Homo sapiens: one gene and its partners. The protein of the gene in region 1 purifies or fractionates together with the protein of each later gene. This does not show direct contact. Each region holds a gene or a part of one and is shown on either strand. Other genes may lie near its edges.

The links. The genes of interacting proteins can lie anywhere in the genome.
Region 2: the proteins of SPON1 (region 1) and RMND5B purify together in Homo sapiens (affinity purification with mass spectrometry; one large-scale study listed by BioGRID and IntAct). This does not show direct contact.
Region 3: the proteins of SPON1 (region 1) and C5orf22 purify together in Homo sapiens (affinity purification with mass spectrometry; one large-scale study listed by BioGRID and IntAct). This does not show direct contact.
Region 4: the proteins of SPON1 (region 1) and DPY19L3 purify together in Homo sapiens (affinity purification with mass spectrometry; one large-scale study listed by BioGRID and IntAct). This does not show direct contact.

Annotation. Positions count from the first base shown.
Region 1 is NC_000011.10:14,262,462-14,267,466, forward strand, and holds part of SPON1 (spondin-1 precursor), read left to right. Parts: intron 1-250; coding exon 251-514; intron 515-3,062; coding exon 3,063-3,226; 3' UTR 3,227-5,005. UniProt on the Homo sapiens protein: Cell adhesion protein that promotes the attachment of spinal cord and sensory neuron cells and the outgrowth of neurites in vitro. May contribute to the growth and guidance of axons in both the spinal cord and the PNS.
Region 2 is NC_000005.10:178,129,606-178,134,575, reverse strand, and holds the start of RMND5B (E3 ubiquitin-protein transferase RMND5B), read right to left. Parts: upstream 3,563-4,970; 5' UTR 3,522-3,562; exon of another isoform or gene 3,340-3,521; 5' UTR 3,200-3,339; intron 1-3,199. UniProt on the Homo sapiens protein: Core component of the CTLH E3 ubiquitin-protein ligase complex that selectively accepts ubiquitin from UBE2H and mediates ubiquitination and subsequent proteasomal degradation of the transcription factor HBP1.
Region 3 is NC_000005.10:31,538,542-31,543,062, forward strand, and holds part of C5orf22 (UPF0489 protein C5orf22), read left to right. Parts: coding exon 1-148; intron 149-2,407; coding exon 2,408-2,470; intron 2,471-2,739; coding exon 2,740-2,861; intron 2,862-4,521.
Region 4 is NC_000019.10:32,440,011-32,444,531, forward strand, and holds part of DPY19L3 (protein C-mannosyl-transferase DPY19L3), read left to right. Parts: intron 1-4,521. UniProt on the Homo sapiens protein: C-mannosyltransferase that mediates C-mannosylation of tryptophan residues on target proteins.

The sequences.
Region 1 (5,005 bases):
AGCCTTCTTGAGTCATAGAGGGAGCATAGAATGGGTGATGACCTGGCACCAATCCTGCCTCTGCTGCTTACCAACCACACGGGCTGAAGTCAGCCTGCCTCTTTGGAGCCTCAGTTTCTTCTTCTGTAAAATAGCATGACACAGCACCTGCTTTGCATCCCTCATAGGCTTGTTGAGATGTTCAAAGGAGAGCGTGACCATATCTTGTTTCAGACATGTGATACACTCATGCCCATCTGTGTCTTGCCAGCCATTGACTGTGAGCTCACCGAGTGGTCCCAGTGGTCGGAATGTAACAAGTCATGTGGGAAAGGCCACGTGATTCGAACCCGGATGATCCAAATGGAGCCTCAGTTTGGAGGTGCACCCTGCCCAGAGACTGTGCAGCGAAAAAAGTGCCGCATCCGAAAATGCCTTCGAAATCCATCCATCCAAAAGCTACGCTGGAGGGAGGCCCGAGAGAGCCGGCGGAGTGAGCAGCTGAAGGAAGAGTCTGAAGGGGAGCAGTTCCCAGGTATGGCTCCCAAGTGTCAGCCTGGGTGGTCTCCAGGACAGGCAGGGTTCTGCACTGGGCTAAGTCTTGGACCTGTTTAAAAAAAAAAAAAAAAAAAAAGTCGGGGAGAGTCTGCATCTTCTGGAGTCTTCAGGCCACATTTTGATTCTTTAGATCCAAGTTTGTTCCCAAATATTGAGCAAGCATAATTTATAAAGGAGATTGGCGGTGGGGGTCATTTATCAAAGAACATTTAGATAACCTAATTACCTGCCAAAAATAAATTTTCAAGCAAAGAATCTTTAGGAATTACAGTTCCTTCTTTACACACATATAAAACCAATAATGTGTCCAACTTTGCTCAAAGTCAGTTATGACTTAGCAACACCATTCACTCCTTGCAAAGAGGGAAAATGATACAGATGTGTCAAAGGAGTCTTGTCTTGTTCATCATTTAGGGAATGTTCCTGAGAACCTCCCAGAACACATCATCTTCCATTTTAAGGGTGTGGCTCAGACAAGGCAGCCGTGGCCTGAGACTTTATGATTTTTTTTTGCAAGGCTAACCAGAAGTTTATCAGCAGTGTCATGTCAGCCTTGAGTTTTATTTCCCCAAATAATATTGATCCAAGCTGACAAATAACTAATAGAACAATGCACCAAGTGCTCAGGGAGCTGAGGAATGAGCATCATCTTACATTGACTGGAGTTCAGGGAGATGTCAGAGCAGGGAAAACTAGAGTGGGTCTTGAAAAATCTAGAGGAGTTTGCCACTTAGAAAAGTACATTCCAGGCCGGGCACGGTGGCTCATGCCTGTAATCCCAGCACCTTGGTAGGCCAAGGCAGGCCAATCACTTGAGGTCAGGAGTTTGAGACCAGCCTGGCCAATATGGTGAAACCCCATCTCTACTAAAAGTACAAAAATTAGCCGGGCATGGTGGCGCACACCTGTAATCCCAGCTACTCAGGAGGCTGAAGCAGGAGAATCACTTGAACTGGGGAGGCAGAGGTTGCAGTGAGCCAAGAGCACACCATTGCACTCCAGTCTGGGCAACAAGAGTGAAACTCCGTCTCAAATTAAAAAAAAAAAAAAAGAAAAGTACATTCCAGGCAGCAAGAATAGTCATTACAAAGGCACAGAGATGCCAAAGACCATGATAGGTCCAAGTGATAGGTCCAAGTGATAAATGGGATGCAGATGAAGCACAGAGGACAAGGCAGGCAGGAAACCAGGCTGGGAAGGCAGGGACCAGACCACACAAGGCCAGTGGCCCACCAAGGATTTTGGGACCTGATTCTGTAGGTGGTTTTAAGCAAGAGGGTGACTGTATCAGACCTGTGTTGACTGATTTGGGGATGGCAAACAGACACAGAGGCCAGATAGGTTTTATTTGTAACCCAAGAGAAAGATTATACATCCCCAAACTCCAGCTTAACTTCAGAGTTCCAGGACTTCAGAAGAAAAAGAAAATGCCTGCCAGGGACTTCAGTGCTGAAGGTGCCCATGTAAAAAAGTGAAGATTAACATGTACATCAAGTTTTCTGATTTTTAAAGGCCTATTCTTTTTGAAGCATGAGGATCTCCTTGATGGTTCAGGATCCTTATGATTAGGGAGCTGTTTGCATATCAAAGTGCTGTCTGTTCTACATGGTAGTCAGCCAGTCAACAAACATTCATTAAAGCCTACTATGTGGCAGGTACATAGTTGTACGGTACATTCCTCCATGACTCTTAGCTGTAGTGTGGTTAACAAATATCTCATGTGTAACCATAAATGTGGTGGGTTCTATAAAAGAGGAATCTAGAGTGCTATGGAAGCAGTAATCAAAAGATCTAACCTAATTAATCTCTGGGGTCAGGGAAGTTTTCTTGGAGAGCAGCATGTTTATGCTGAGTAGGAAGAACAAAAATTGTACTTCTCTATACTTAGCATTTGGGAGCCAAGTACTTGGGGAGTAAGGCATAAGAGAAAGTGGTTTAGTGTTCCTTATATGGCTGCTGCATAAGCCATCCCAAAACAGTCTTTTTAAACAATCACTTAGCAAGATTCTGTGGATCAGTGATGTGAACTGGGTCCACTGGATGGTTCTTCTTGGGTCTAGTTTGGACTCATTCATGTGGCTACTACTAGCTGGTGGCACAATTGGACCAGACCAGCCTCACCTGCGTATCTGGGGCCTCATGAGATGGCTGGGGCTTCTCTGCACATGGTCTCTCCAGTGGTCTAGCCAGGCTTGCTTACATGGTAGTAGAAGGGTCCTAGCAGCTTTTAGGCCTGTTTTTGCTCATGTCCCATTGGCCATGGCAAATCATGTAGTCAAGCCCAGATTCAAGAGGTGGAGAAACAGAGTCTGCCTTTTGATGAGAAGAACCGTGAAGCATTTGTGGCCATTTTTTTGCAGTCAGTCACATACGACCTAACTGTCCCTAATAACGACTCTAACCAATCATTACATACTTGAGCAGAGGAGGAGCCCAGACAAGCACATTTCACAGTTCTACTAGAGTTCAGCATCCCTGTTCCGTCCCGTTTCTGCGGGCCTAACAAGGCATTCTCATGCTTTCAGGTTGTAGGATGCGCCCATGGACGGCCTGGTCAGAATGCACCAAACTGTGCGGAGGTGGAATTCAGGAACGTTACATGACTGTAAAGAAGAGATTCAAAAGCTCCCAGTTTACCAGCTGCAAAGACAAGAAGGAGATCAGAGCATGCAATGTTCATCCTTGTTAGCAAGGGTACGAGTTCCCCAGGGCTGCACTCTAGATTCCAGAGTCACCAATGGCTGGATTATTTGCTTGTTTAAGACAATTTAAATTGTGTACGCTAGTTTTCATTTTTGCAGTGTGGTTCGCCCAGTAGTCTTGTGGATGCCAGAGACATCCTTTCTGAATACTTCTTGATGGGTACAGGCTGAGTGGGGCGCCCTCACCTCCAGCCAGCCTCTTCCTGCAGAGGAGTAGTGTCAGCCACCTTGTACTAAGCTGAAACATGTCCCTCTGGAGCTTCCACCTGGCCAGGGAGGACGGAGACTTTGACCTACTCCACATGGAGAGGCAACCATGTCTGGAAGTGACTATGCCTGAGTCCCAGGGTGCGGCAGGTAGGAAACATTCACAGATGAAGACAGCAGATTCCCCACATTCTCATCTTTGGCCTGTTCAATGAAACCATTGTTTGCCCATCTCTTCTTAGTGGAACTTTAGGTCTCTTTTCAAGTCTCCTCAGTCATCAATAGTTCCTGGGGAAAAACAGAGCTGGTAGACTTGAAGAGGAGCATTGATGTTGGGTGGCTTTTGTTCTTTCACTGAGAAATTCGGAATACATTTGTCTCACCCCTGATATTGGTTCCTGATGCCCCCCCAACAAAAATAAATAAATAAATTATGGCTGCTTTATTTAAATATAAGGTAGCTAGTTTTTACACCTGAGATAAATAATAAGCTTAGAGTGTATTTTTCCCTTGCTTTTGGGGGTTCAGAGGAGTATGTACAATTCTTCTGGGAAGCCAGCCTTCTGAACTTTTTGGTACTAAATCCTTATTGGAACCAAGACAAAGGAAGCAAAATTGGTCTCTTTAGAGACCAATTTGCCTAAATTTTAAAATCTTCCTACACACATCTAGACGTTCAAGTTTGCAAATCAGTTTTTAGCAAGAAAACATTTTTGCTATACAAACATTTTGCTAAGTCTGCCCAAAGCCCCCCCAATGCATTCCTTCAACAAAATACAATCTCTGTACTTTAAAGTTATTTTAGTCATGAAATTTTATATGCAGAGAGAAAAAGTTACCGAGACAGAAAACAAATCTAAGGGAAAGGAATATTATGGGATTAAGCTGAGCAAGCAATTCTGGTGGAAAGTCAAACCTGTCAGTGCTCCACACCAGGGCTGTGGTCCTCCCAGACATGCATAGGAATGGCCACAGGTTTACACTGCCTTCCCAGCAATTATAAGCACACCAGATTCAGGGAGACTGACCACCAAGGGATAGTGTAAAAGGACATTTTCTCAGTTGGGTCCATCAGCAGTTTTTCTTCCTGCATTTATTGTTGAAAACTATTGTTTCATTTCTTCTTTTATAGGCCTTATTACTGCTTAATCCAAATGTGTACCATTGGTGAGACACATACAATGCTCTGAATACACTACGAATTTGTATTAAACACATCAGAATATTTCCAAATACAACATAGTATAGTCCTGAATATGTACTTTTAACACAAGAGAGACTATTCAATAAAAACTCACTGGGTCTTTCATGTCTTTAAGCTAAGTAAGTGTTCAGAAGGTTCTTTTTTATATTGTCCTCCACCTCCATCATTTTCAATAAAAGATAGGGCTTTTGCTCCCTTGTTCTTGGAGGGACCATTATTACATCTCTGAACTACCTTTGTATCCAACATGTTTTAAATCCTTAAATGAATTGCTTTCTCCCAAAAAAAGCACAATATAAAGAAACACAAGATTTAATTATTTTTCTACTTGGGGGGAAAAAAGTCCTCATGTAGA
Region 2 (4,970 bases), on another chromosome or scaffold:
CTGAATCAGTCAGTCATCTTCACCAGGCGCAAGGAATTGTGTTTGTCTTTGACAAACTTCATGATTAATAGATTGAAATTTCATGTCCACTGGTCCTAAGCCTTCCTCCCCAAGGTCTCACATATACAGAAATTATCCACCAGGATGACCCTCCGAAACACATAGCAGATCCTGTTACCTTTTGCCCAACACTACCATGGTTGACATATAAACCCTTTGCAATAATGTATTTGCTTCCTTTGCACAAGTTGTTCCCATTTTTAGAGTGCCCTCTGCACTTCTTTGTATAGAGTACGTAAGCTGTAGTTAAATTATCACCTCCCCTTGAGCCCTCAGTGAAATCTCCCTGCCTCCTTTTCTGCTTCATAACCTGGCAAGAGTGGCCACACCACACCCATCGAGTCCTCAGCTACTGCAGCACAGTAACAGCCTGTCCACGTCAGCCTCCTCCATTGGTCTGTGAGCTGCTCGATGGCTGGAATGTAGTCTTGTCCTTTCTCCCCCTCAGTGCCCAGACTAGGGCCTGGTCCATGGTAGATGCTCAGTAAACATTTGTTGATTGGGGCAGGGCGCGGTGGCTCACGCCTGTAATCCCAACACTTTGGGAGGCCGAGGCGAGTGGATCATGAGGTCAGGAGATCAAGACCATCCTGGCTAACACGGTGAAACCCCATCTCTACTAAAAAAATACAAAAAATTAGCCGGGTGTGGTGGCGGGCACCCGTAGTCCCAGCTACTCGGGAGGCTGGGGCAGGAGAATGGTGTGAACCCGGGAGGTGGAGCTTGCAGTGAGCCAAGATTGTGCCACTGCACTCCAGCCTGGGAGACAGCGTGAGACTCCGTCTCCAAAAAAAAAAAAAATTGTTGATTGGCCGGCGCAGTGGCTCACACCTGTAATCCCAGCACTTTGGGAGGCTGAGGTGGGTGGCTCACCTGAGGTCAAGAGTTTGAGACCCGCCTGACCAACATGGTGAAACTTCGTCTCTACTAAAAATACAAAAATTACCGAGGCGTGGTGGCGGGCACCTGTAATCCCAGCTACTCAGGAGGCTGAGGCAGGACAATCGCTTGAACCTAGGAGGTGGAGGTTGCAGTGAGCCAAGACCACGCCATTGCACTCCATCCTGGGCAACAAGAGCAAAAACTCCGTCTCAAATTTAAAAAAACACACACACACATTTGCTGATTAAATGACACATCCATTTCCTAACTGCGCTGGAGAACCTGAGCTCAAATGTGTAGGAGTGGGTAGAAAAGAGACATGAGTGAAATATTAAAATCTCCACAAAGGCATGTATGGAGGTTTATCCTGGAGTATTTAGCATCCTGAAACAAGGGGCTCCTGTGTAAGGAGAAAGGAAGTTTGAGCAAATCATAAAGGTCCCTTTTGCCTGACAAAGATTAGACAACATCGGCTGGGCGTGGTGGCTCATGCCTGTAATCCCAGCACTTTGGGAGGCCGAGGCAGGCGGATCACAAGGTCAGGAGTTTGAGACCAGCCTGACCAACATGGCGAAACCCTGTCTCTACTAAAAATACAAAAATTAGCTGGGCGTGGTGGTGCGTGCCTGTAATCCCAGCTACTCGGGAGGCTGAGGCAGGAGAATTGCTTGAACCCAGGAGGCAGAGGTTGCAGTGAGCTGAGATGGCGCCACTGCACTCCAGCCTGGGCGACAGAGTGAGACTGTCTCAAAAAAACAAACAAACAAACAAAAACAAAAAAAAAAGATTAGACAACCTCCATTGACCCAATTCTTAACGCTTTTTTTTTTTTTTTTTTTTTTTTGTGAGGCAGGGTCTCTTCAGTTAATAGGGTTGCTTAAAAAAAAAAAAAAAAAGAGAGAGACAGGGTCTCAATCTGTTTCCCAGGCCAGAGTGCTGTGGTACAATCAGGGCTCACTGCAGCCTCGACCTCCTGGGCTCAAGTGATCCTCCCACCTCAGCCCCCCACCCCAAGAAGCTGGGACTACAGGTGCACCATGTAGTCCCACCATGAACACTCCTGAGTTCATGACACATGTAAGTGGTCCATGCAGGGCCTTTTCTCCTTTGTGTTTATTTATGTATTCCCTTTTGTCCCTATTCTTCCCCTCTCTCCCCACCACACCTGGCTAATTTTTTTGTTGTTTGTTTTTGAGACAGAGTCTTACTCTGTCGCCCAGGCTGGAGTACAGTGGCACGATCTTGGCTCATTGCAACCTTTGCTTCCCAGTTTCAAGCGATTCTCCTGCCTCAGCCTCCCAAGTAGCTGGAATTACAGACACCTGCCACCACACCCGGCTAAATTTTGTATTTTTAGTAGAGACGGGGTTTCACCATGTTGGCCAGGCTGGTCTTGAACTCCTGGCCTCAAGTGATCCTCCCGCCTTGGCCTCCCAAAGTGCTGGGGTTACAAGCGTGAGCCACTGCGCCCAGCCTAATTTTTTGGAGCGACAGGGTTTCACCATGTTGGCCAGGTTGGTCTTGAAGTGCTGAGCTCAAGCCGTCTGCCAGTCTCAGCCTCCCAAAGTGCTGGAATTACGGGCGTGAACCACCGTGCCCAGCCAATTCTTATGCTTTTGCAGCCGCGACCTCCATCCACTCTCTACCCTACATGTCACTCCTCTGCTTAAAACCAAAAGATTTCCACTGTACTTAGAAAAAACTCCACATTCCTCTCTCTGACCTACAGACTCTATGTGACCAAACCCCAATTATCCGACCTCATCTCCTACCACTCTTTCCCTTTCTTACCATACTTTAGCCACACTAGCTTGCTTTCTGTTCCTTGACTATACTCTCAGTTGATTTCTGCCCTAGGGCCTTCACACTGGCTGTTCCCGCTGCCTGGACCACTCTCTTCCCGTATCTTCCTAAGCCTGCCTCCTAATTTGGGTCTCAACGCAAATGTCCCGTCCTCAGAGATGCTCTGCTAGACCACAGTATCTAATACTGACCCCTCCGCCCCACCCTCACACCAGTTACCGTGTCATATCGCCCTCCTCCATTTTTTTTTTTTTTTTACTATACAGTCCTACTTGAAGTTTCTAATCTTTCTTTTCTCATTAACCAAAACTGGAGGGAGGAAAAAGCCCATCATTTTCCCTGGACAGCAGCGCCTACTGGGAGTTTCACCCGCATTAACATGCAAACGACAGGCAAACTCCTAGTCATCCTTCCAAAGACCCTGCTCCATAGCCCTGCCGAGCCCGGTGCGCACCTGCTCACTTCCGACCCAGCGCGGTCGCACGAGGACTGGACGTTTGAGTCCGAGCAACTCCCCCCGGCTGAGGCGGCTCTTCGGGGGCTGGGCCGGGACCTATGAGTCTGGGACTCCAGCTCCCGGCCCAGGGCCGACAACTGCGAAGAGAACAAGCCCAAGGGCAGATTGTTCGGGGCTTAGTCGTGGGTAGCAGGGGTTCTGGAGAAGGCTGGGGCCCGGGAGGCCGGCCGAGCTTTCCCCGCCGCGCGCCTCAGCTCCGCCGGCCGCTGTGCCCGCCCTCGGCCCGCACCTGCCGGCTCCCAAGCCCGCCCGCTCTCACCTCGCCCCGCAGCCCCGGCCCCGGCTTCCGGCGCCACTGTCATCGGAACCGGAAGCCGCGGCGGGCGATCGGCGGCCCGGGCCCGCCCATTGGCGGTTTTGCGGAGGGGTGGCCGTCCCACGAGCCCGCGGCTTTGCGCCTCACCGCCGAGGCTCCCCGCCGCGCATGCCGAGTGGAGTCGCCCGCGGGAACCGGGCGGCGGCCAGAAAAGCCGCGCCTGTAGTCCTCTGGGGGTCGCGCCTGGTCGTTTCCAGGTTCCGAGTCCCTCCGGCCCGGCCCCGGGCCTCCCAGTCGGCGGAAGCCCCTGGCCGCGACCGCTCCTCGCCGGCGGGCGGGTTCCCCACCCGGCAGAGGCGTCGGCCTCGCACTCAACCCAGCACCCGACTCCCGGGTCAGAAGCCCCAAGCCCCAAGTGGTTACGCTTACAGCGCTGCCCGCCCTGCTCAGTGAGGGCGGCGCGGGGGCCGTGAGGGGCAGTGGCTGGGCTAGGTGCGCACCGGCCTCGGCAGGGCTGTGGAGCAGGGTCTTTGGAAGGATGACTAGGAGTTTGCCTGTCGTTTGCATGTTAATGCGGGTGAAACTCCCAGTAGGCGCTGCTGTCCAGGGAAAATGATGGGCTTTTTCCTCTCTCCAGTTTTGGTTAATGAGAAAAGAAAGATTAGAAACTTCAAGTAGGACTGTGAACAGGCTTAGGGATCCTGGACAGAGCCTAGAAATCTCAGGAGAACTGAGAGCTCTTGAAATATGAAGTGATGCTTAAAAAAAAAAAGAAAACTCCAGGCCGGGCGCGGCGGCTCACGCCTGTAATCCCAGCACTTTGGGAGGCCGAGGCGGGCGGATCAGGAGGTCAGGAGATCGAGACCATCCTGGCTAACACGGTGAAACCCCGTCTCTACTAAAAATACAAAAAATTGGCCGGGCGAGGTGGGGGGCGCCTGTAGTCCCAGCCACTCGGGAGGCTGAGGCAGGAGAATGTCGTGAACCCGGGAGGCGGAGCTCGGAGTGAGCCGAGACGGCGCCACTGCACTCCAGCCTGGGCGACAGAGCGAGACTCCGTCTCAAAAAAAAAGAATAGAAAACTCCGGGCCGGGCGGCTCACGCCTGTAATCCCAGCACTTTGGGAGGCTGAGGCGGGCGGAACATAAGGTCAGGAGTTCGAGACCAGCCTGTCCAATATGGTGAAACCCCGTCTGTACTAAAAATACAAAAATTAGCCGGGAATGGTGGCAGGCGCCTGTAGTCCCATGATCCTAGCTACTCGGGAGACTGAGGCAGGAGAATCGTTTGAACCCGAGAGGCGGAGGTTGCAGTGAGCCGAGATCGCGCCATTGCACTCCAGCCTAGGCGACAGAGCGAGACTCCGTCTCAAAAAAAAAAAAAAGAAAAGAAAAGAAAACTCCTTTCCTGTCCCAGCCTTTCTGGTCCCCTTAGCCCGAACTTAATCTGCCC
Region 3 (4,521 bases), on another chromosome or scaffold:
TTCATGTTCTTCTGAAAATCAGGAATGCCAGACTGCTGCCAGCACTGGGGAAATTCTGGAAATTTTGAAGAAAGGGAAGGCATTTGTTTTAGATATTGACTTGGATTTTTTTTCAGTCAAGAATCCCTTCAAAGAAATGTTCACTCAGGTAAATAATTGTGTTTTTAACACATAGATCTTGAGAATTGTATGGCTTTTCTCTAGATGAGGAACCAGCAAACTCTTTAAACAGCCAGCTAGCAATTATTTTAGGCTTTGGGGTTCACATTCTCTACTAATACCCTTTTCTGTTGTTTTCTAAACCTTTTAAAGTTGTATATACCATTCTTAACTTGAGGGCCATACACAAACAGGCTATAGGCTGTGGATTGCCAACTCCTGCTCTAGATAGTATTCATTATTTTGCATTTATTAATTGGGGTAATGTATACATGGGTGATGGATAAAAATTAAGTCATACAGTACAGGTATATACAGTCAGCCCTCTGTATCCGTGGGTTCTGTATTCCTGGATTTAACCAGCCACAGATAGGAAATATTCAGAAAAAATAAAAAACAACTAGAAATAACAATACAAGAGTAAAAAATAATACAAATAAAAAACAATACAGTATAACAACTATTTACATAGGATTTACACTGTATTAGATACCACAAGTAATTTAGAGATGACTTAAAGTATATGAGAGGGTATGCATATGTTATATGCAAATACTACACTATTTTATGTCAGGGACTTGAGCATCCACAGATTTTGGTATCCACAGGAGGTCCCAGAACCAATCCCCCACGGATACCAAGGGACAAGTGTACATTGAAAAACAGCACTCTCTTATCCCCATTCCCTCAGTTCTTTGCTTCAGAAACAAATACTGTGATCAGTTTCTTGTGTATCTTTCCAGCGATATTCTATATATAAATCCTGTGTAACAGATTATTCCTTAAACAGTGATGTGCCTGATTACTCACCTAAATATTTGTAATAAATATTTGTAATGAAAGTTTCTAGAAGGTTACATAAGGAATTCAGTGGCAGTTATTCCTTTTAGAGTGCTATTAGGAAACCTGGGAACACAAGGATTTGTATAGCCTAAATACCCTTTGGTACAATGGACTTTTTAAAAAGCATATATTAAACTTTATTATTTAGTAGCAATTTTTTAAATATCATTAGGAAAGACAGATGTTCATCTTTTTTTTTTTCTTAAGAGCATGTTCAGGCTGGGCATGGTGGCTCATGCGTATAATCCCAGCACTTTGGGAGGCCAAAGCAGGAGGACCACTTGAGCCAAGGAGTTTGAGAACAGCGTAGGCAACGTAGCAAGACCCCATCTCTATTAAAAAAAAATTTTTTTTTTAATTTAGCCAGGCATAGTGGCACGTGCCTGTGGTCCAGCTACTCAGGAGGCTGAGATGGGAGGATCACTTGAGCCTGGGAGGTCAAGGCTGCAGTGAGTCGTGATCGCACCCCTGCACTCCAGCCTGGGTGACAGCGAGACCCCATCTCATAAAAAAGAAGCATGTTCAAAAGTTAGGGGAGTTAAGTTCTGTTGTTAACTCTACTGCTTATTAGCTATATGATCTTAGGAAAATTACTTAACCTTTCCGACCCATAGTTTCTTCAAGTATCAAATCAGAATAATAATCATACCCAACTCAGGATTGTTATAATGAATAAAGCACTGAAGATATGCCACAACATTGTGCTTAATGAATTTTAGCCCTTGGGTATAACCTTTTCCTGAGAATACTCCTAAATAGGATTACTGGGGCCAGGTGTACCCACCTATATAATGGATCCATGTAGCTGTGCTAAACAAGGGGAAACATTATCCTACAAAGTTTGTATAGCAAGCCTCTTTCTCCCCTTGTGTGGTGCCTCCTGACCGAGGTTCTATGTCTTTGACATTCTACCTCCAGTATTGCCTTTGTACTTCAGAGATCTCTTCTGTTGTTAGAGAAATGGCTGCAAAGTGAACATAGGGAGTTCTTTGTTGTTGTTATTAAAGATATGTATATTTCCTGTAAACAGCTAAGTCTGTTTAGATCCTAGGACATGGCATTTATATAGCAGAATATTATTTAAAATATTTTCATCTCGTGACCCATTAGCCACCAAGTATGCTTCCTTAGGTAATTTTTACATAGTAGTACCATGCCCAGCTGGATAGAGTTGCCTTGAAGAAGTGATATTTACAATAAAACAAAATTTTACAATATTTACAATAAAATTATTACAATAAAAATCTAAAGTATACATTTTGCCTGATTCTCCCATACATACCTTTAAATAATTATCTAAGATGTTCTTGTATCACAAGGAAGGTTGTCTCTTCCTTAAAGCATATCATTAAAAAATTTTAACTTTTTTTTTTCTGGTATGTGGATTTTTTGTTTTGTTTTCCAGGAAGAGTACAAAATCTTACAAGAGCTGTACCAATTTAAGAAACCTGGCACCAACCTAACAGAGGTATCCTCCATTTGTTTCTTTGGGGTTTTATTCATTTATCATATAACTAATAATATCTTGCAAATTACCACAGTGATCTCAAAGACTGCTCAAAGTGTGTGTGTGTGTGTGTGTGTGTGTGTGTGTGTGTGTGTGTGTATTGGCGAAGCCCATGGTTAGTACTTGAAAATTATGTTTTAACTAATAGAGCCAAGTTTTTTTTGTAATGGGATGTTGCTTGTTTTTTGAAAGAATAACTATATAATCTCAGCTTTTCAATGTATTTAAAGGAAGATTTGGTAGATATTGTTGATACTCGAATTCATCAATTAGAGGATTTAGAAGCCACTTTCGCTGATTTGTGTGATGGTGATGATGAAGAAACGGTACAGAGATGGGCTTCAAACCCTGGGTAAGACTCTCAAACATTTTTTTCCCCCAACTCTACTAACTTTCAGTCCTAGATATGTTCCTAAATTTGCAAGATACATTGCTTTTAAAAAAGTAGTATTCAGCTACTTGGGACACTGAGGCAGGAGAGGACCACTTGAGGCCAGGAGTTCCAGACCAGCCTGGGTAATGTAACAAGACCCTGTCTCTAAAAAAAGGTTTTTTAATTAGCCAGATATGGTGGCACCTACCTGTAGCCACTACAGCCACTGCTCCCAGCTACTTGGGAGGCTGAAGTGGGAGGATTGCTTGGGCCAAGGAGTTTGAGGCTGTAGTGGGCTGTGATCATGCCACTGCACTCTACCCTGGGTGACAGAGACTTGTCTCAAAAAAGAGAGAAAAAAAAGAATTAGTATTAAATTTCAACACATTTACTAACAATAGTAGACATTATTGAGTGTTTTCTGTGTACCCTTTATCTAAGATTTTTCCTTGCCTTATCTCATGTACTCCTTACAACAGTCTTATGGTTTTATTATTATTATGTCAATTTTATAGATGAGGAAACCAAGGTTAAGTAAATTGCCCCAAGTCACATAGTAAGTGGGCATGTTTTTAGTCTTTGTATGGTAGCTGCCCCTAAATATGAGATACTATACAAGGTCTTAAAGAGAATTAAAGATGAGTAGTACATAGGCATTCCCTGTTCTAAGTAGAGTAAGAAAGAAATACTAACCTAACAACAGAAAAGTAAATTACTTGACAAGTAAATTACAATGCAAAAATTTGGCTGGGCGTGGTGGCTCACGCCTGTAATCCCAGCACTTTGGGAGGCTGAGGCGGGCGGATCATGAGGTTAGGAGATCGAGACCATCCTGGCCAACACGGAGAAACCCAGTCTCTACTAAAAATACCAAAAAAAAAAAAAAATTAGCCGGGCATAGTGGTGGGCGCCTGTAGTCCCAGCTACTCGGGAGACTGAGGCAGGAAAATGGCGTGAATCCGGGAGGCGGAGCTTGCAGTGAGCCGAGATTGCATCACTGCACTCCAGCCTGTGGAGACTGGACTTTTTCTGAGACTCCGTCTCAAAAAAAAAAAGCGAAAACTTAGCTTCTTTTAAGGAAAACCCAAACACAAGTGGAAGGGTATTTTCAATCTCTTGACGTGAAGGAGCAGTATTTGAAGGCTAGATTCTCCATCAGGTAATTTATTTGACTGGCTGTTCATATCACCTTGAAAGAATGGAGAGAGAAGTTCTTTTTGAGTGAAAGCCTTTGGTATTGAAGCTGGAGTGAAAGAATATTGACATAAATATTACAGTGATTTTTCTCTAAAATAATTCTTAAATCATGTAATCTCAAACAGCCAGAAAACTAAAATAAAACCATCAGACAAACTTTTTGTCCCCATGAGCATAGGAAAACCAGAACTAGCTTATTTTAAAACTAATCTCCCACGAACTGTCATATTATTCTCTCTGGTGTAAACAAAAGAAAATCAGTTGTAAGGTAGCAAGATAAAACGGGAAATTAGAATCAATAGTACTTTAGGCCAGAACATGAACAGCCACTAAGATTTGTCATGTTTTGGTTATTAAAAATAATTCAGCAGATCTCTAGAAGAATATGGAAAAAGCTGAAACAGTGGTTGCCTCTGGGGAGAGGAATTCTATGGCTAAATGA
Region 4 (4,521 bases), on another chromosome or scaffold:
AGCTGTTTCTTAGATCTGCTGTAAATTTGCTGTGGCCAATTGAAGCTGAGTAATTTATGAAGCCTAGTTTGACCATCTTAACTTTTATTCGCTTATTTTAAGTTAAAAAATGGAATGGATTTTATTTTGGGGCATAAATGCCTAGGTCAATTGTTATTTATAGAGATGACTTAAATTTTAAAATATAAGATAGCTCTTTTAAAATGTCTTACTGTGTACTGCCACTTTTAAAAAAGAAATCAATAGGTATATAACAGCTTTTTTGTAGTACTTTATAAAATTTTCATAGTCACATTTAACTAATATGGGATGTGAATCCCTGTTGACTGGCTGAAAGTCACATGTGAAATAAAGAAACCAGTATCTGTCTCCTAATGTCTGCTGCTGTCATTTAATCACATTTTTTCATGTGCAAAAATATGATTTTATGTATTGCGTACAGTTTTAAAATGGCTTATAGTTAGTATTCTAAAGTAGTAGTAACTTAAATATTTCCCAAGTATAATAAAATACTTTCTCCATATCTAAGGCAGCAGCATAGCCCAAGGATTTGTGCTCATTTATTCCATATCAAAGGAGATCCAGTAAGCTTCCATAACTGACTGAGTCTGAATTAAGAAACATAAAAGTCTACCAAGAAATACACATTGCCTGTCTACTGAGACACTGTAATAGAATGGGCACTACAGAAAATGCCAATATGTGTAATTCATTGTCATAGCCACAGTTTGCCTTTTAGCTTGGGAAACAAAGATCACAGACAACAAGAACAAGCAGACAAATGATAGCTGCTAATTAGCAATACTGATATATCTAAAAGAAGAAAAGTTATTTTTAGGCAGAGAAGTGTTTACAGAAGTAAGAAGCTAGAACTGGACCACCTAGATCACAAGTGAGGGTAGAATTTGGGTGGGATGTCAGGGGTGGGGGCAGAATAGGAAGGTGGAATGCAGCAAGAGCAAGTAGATAGGACTAAGTTTATATATGTATATGAAATGTTTAGTGTTTCTGCAGGTGTGCCAGTGACCACTCCTACACTGCTGGTAACCTATACACTCCTATAATCTTTCTTTAGTGTAGTTTCACAGTAGGTATCAAAAGCCTAAAAATGTATTTGCCTTTTCACCAACATTTCTACCCCTATAAGTTTGTCCTAAGTAAATAATCTGCCATGTTCATTTTAGTTGTATTGTAATAAGAAAAAGCTGGGCGGAAAAGATAAAAAGAAATAAAAAACTGGAAATGACTTGAGCCAATAGCAATAGGGTATACTTAAATAAATGATGGCATATCTATGCAATCAAATATTATATAACCATTAGTTCCCCCATATTTTTTTGAAAAAGCGAAACATAGAGAAAATGAGTAAAGGTTCTGGAAAAATACACAGTAAAGTATCAACAGTCAGCTACACGATTGATGTTCTGCATATTCTTTTTGTTCTTTAGATCTTTTGATTTTTTCTGATAATGAACATGTGTCTCTTTTTTTTTTTTTTTTTCTTTGAGATGGAGTCTCACTCTGTCTCCCAGGCTGGAGTGCAGTGGCGCGATCTTGGCTCACTACAACCTCCACCTCCTGAGTTTAAGCAATTCTCCTGCCTCAGCCTCCCAAGTAGCTGGGAATACAGGTGCATGCCACCACACCCGGCTAATATTTGTATTTTTAGTAGAGACAGGGTTTTGCCATATTGCCCAGGCTGGTCTTGAACTCCTGACCTCAAGGGATCCACCTGCCTTGGCCTCCCAAAGTGCTGGGATTATAGGTGTGAGCCACTGTGCCCATCTGAACATGTATCTCTTTTAAAATTAGAAAGCAAAGGTACTGTTTTGGCTCACATACACAACATTTTAAAATAATATAGCTAATTGATTTTTTATTTAGTTCTAAACTTTGTTCAACTTTTACATTTGAAACTGTGTTGGTATTAGAAGTAGTTTTAAGTATCAGACTTTAAGGAGGAACATTATTACAATGAAAGGATCCTGAGTTATAAAACTAAATTGCTGCTGTCAGGTCTGAAAATAACTGGCTCTTTCAGCTTAGGCAAGTGATTTAACTTAGTTTCTTCATAAATTAGAATCACTTCTCTCTAACCATGTCAAATGGGAAAGAGTCAGAATAATTGGTATAGAAAAAGGTAATACAAATTCAGAGCTCAGTGTGGTGACAAGAAGCAGTACCTTCTACAGTACATTTTGTCATCTTTTCATGAATGATGAAACTCTTACCAGCAAAACCTCAAGTTTCCAGTCAGAAATGTGAACAGAGTAAAACAGAACAGCAAGCATATTATAAAGTGTATACTTTTGCTTAATTAAAGGCTAAAATATGGAGGTTAATAAAGTTTTCTTAATCTATTGTGGAAACAGACGCATTCATGATAAATGCTTAAGAGATCATGTTAAGTACCCTACATGGTTCCAGACAAGAGGGAGTAGAGACATTTCTCCCCGTTCCTCCCCAAAGTACATTGAAAAACCTTAGACAGTATATGTATATAACAAACATAAGAGGAATTTGAGAGGTAGAGAGAAGCAGACTGCCTAGGGACCTTGCGACCAGAGGGAAAATTTGACAGCGAGTTTCTTGGGTTTTCTTTTTGCCCCATATATCCTTGACTGGGTGCTGGAGAAGTCAGAAACCTGGGAATAACAATGGACTCAAACAAAAAGCCTCCTCCCTCTAGCAAAAGGACCAGAAGAGAGGAAGCCTAACAAGACAGAAAACTTTCAAACATTAACTGCCTTATTCTAGCGAAATGCTACAGAAGCAAAACCACAGCTCCACTCCCACCTCCATCAGTAAAGTTCAGTGGGAAGCCTAGATTCCTACCCTCACCTAGCTGTCACTAGGCATGCCTTGCTTCCTGCCAGAGCTATGTCAGAGAAGTCTAGTGGGGAACCAGAACTTTCACCATCTCCCAGAGACATCTGTGAAGGCCACTTGGGAAACTTGGACTTCAACTCTCACTCAGTGGTAATGAGACATCCTGTCCCCTCTCTATCAGGATGGTGTCAGAGAAGGTCAACAGGGAGGTTGAGACTCTAACCACCACCCAGATGTAATAAGCCTTTCTCTACTGCCCTACCCCATGCTGTCGGTGCAGGCCATGTAGGGAGCAGTGGTGACGCACCTCTGTTTCTCCCAGCCAGCATGTGTCAGCAGGGACCTGTAGAGAGCCTGAACTTTCGCCTTCACCCAGCAATAAGGAAGTACACCTTCTGCTGACCCCCAGATGTCAGTGGAGGGCAAGTGGGCACCTTGGACTTCCATTTCCGTCTGAAAGTACTGAGGCAGCACCCTTCTTTCCCCATTAGCATAGCGTTGGCATAGTTTGAATGTTTTTGTGGTCCCCCACCAAATTTATATGTTGAAACCCAAATCCCCAAGGTGATTGTATTAGGAGGTAGGTAGGGCCTTTTAGAAGGTGATTAGTGCCATTATAAAACAGGCACAAGGGAGCTGTTTCACCCCTTTCACCATGTGAGGAGGACACAGCAAGAAAGTGCCATCAGTGAACCAGGAAATAAGCCCTCACCAGCCACTGAATCTGCCAGTTCCTTGATCTTGGACTTGCCAGCCTCCGGAACTATGAGAAGTAACTTTTTTGTTGTTTATAAGCTACCCAGATTACGGTATTTTGTTAGATAACAGCCTAAATGGACCAAGACACATGGTGTCACAGGAGGCCTGCTAACATGGCAGATTTAAATAAGATCCAGGGTCCCATAATGTAATAGGATACAGTTAAAAATCACTTCTTAGGCCGAGCGCAGTGGCTCATGCCTGTAATCTCAGCCCTTTGGGAGGCCAAGGCAGGCAGATATTTGAAGTCAGTTTGAGATCAGCCCGGGCAACATGGTGAAACCCCGTCACTACTAAAAATACAAAAATTAACTGGCTGTGGTGGCATGTGCCTGTAATCACAGCTATTCAGGAGGCTGAGGCAGGAGAATAGCTTGAGCGAGCCAAGATGGGGCCACTGCATTCCAGCCTGGGCAACGGAGCAAGACTCTGTCTCAAAAAAAAAAAAAAGAAAAAAAAATTCTTATATTAAGAATTAGGAAAATCTCTCTTGAGTGAAAAGAGACAATCAATAGATGCTAACACTGAGATACACAGAAATTGGAATTATCTTACAAGGAATTTAAGGCAGCCATCATAAAAAAAAAGCTTCATTGAGCAATTACGAACACACTTGAAACAAATGAAAATACAAACTCTAAGCAAAGAAGTAGAAGATACAAAGAAGAAGCAAGTGGAAATTTTAGAACAGAAAAATTCCAGTAATCGAAGTTTAAAACTCAGTGGATGGACTCAACAGCAAAATGAAGTAGTCAGAGGAAAGAATCAGTGAACTTGAAGATAGAACAATTTAGAAATTACCTAATCTGAACAACAAGAAAAAATAGAATGAAACAAAAATGAACAGAGCCTCAAGGACCTGTGAGACTATAATGAAAAGTCTAACATTCAGGTAATCAGAATCCCAGAAGAAGACAAGAAAAGAGTTTACTG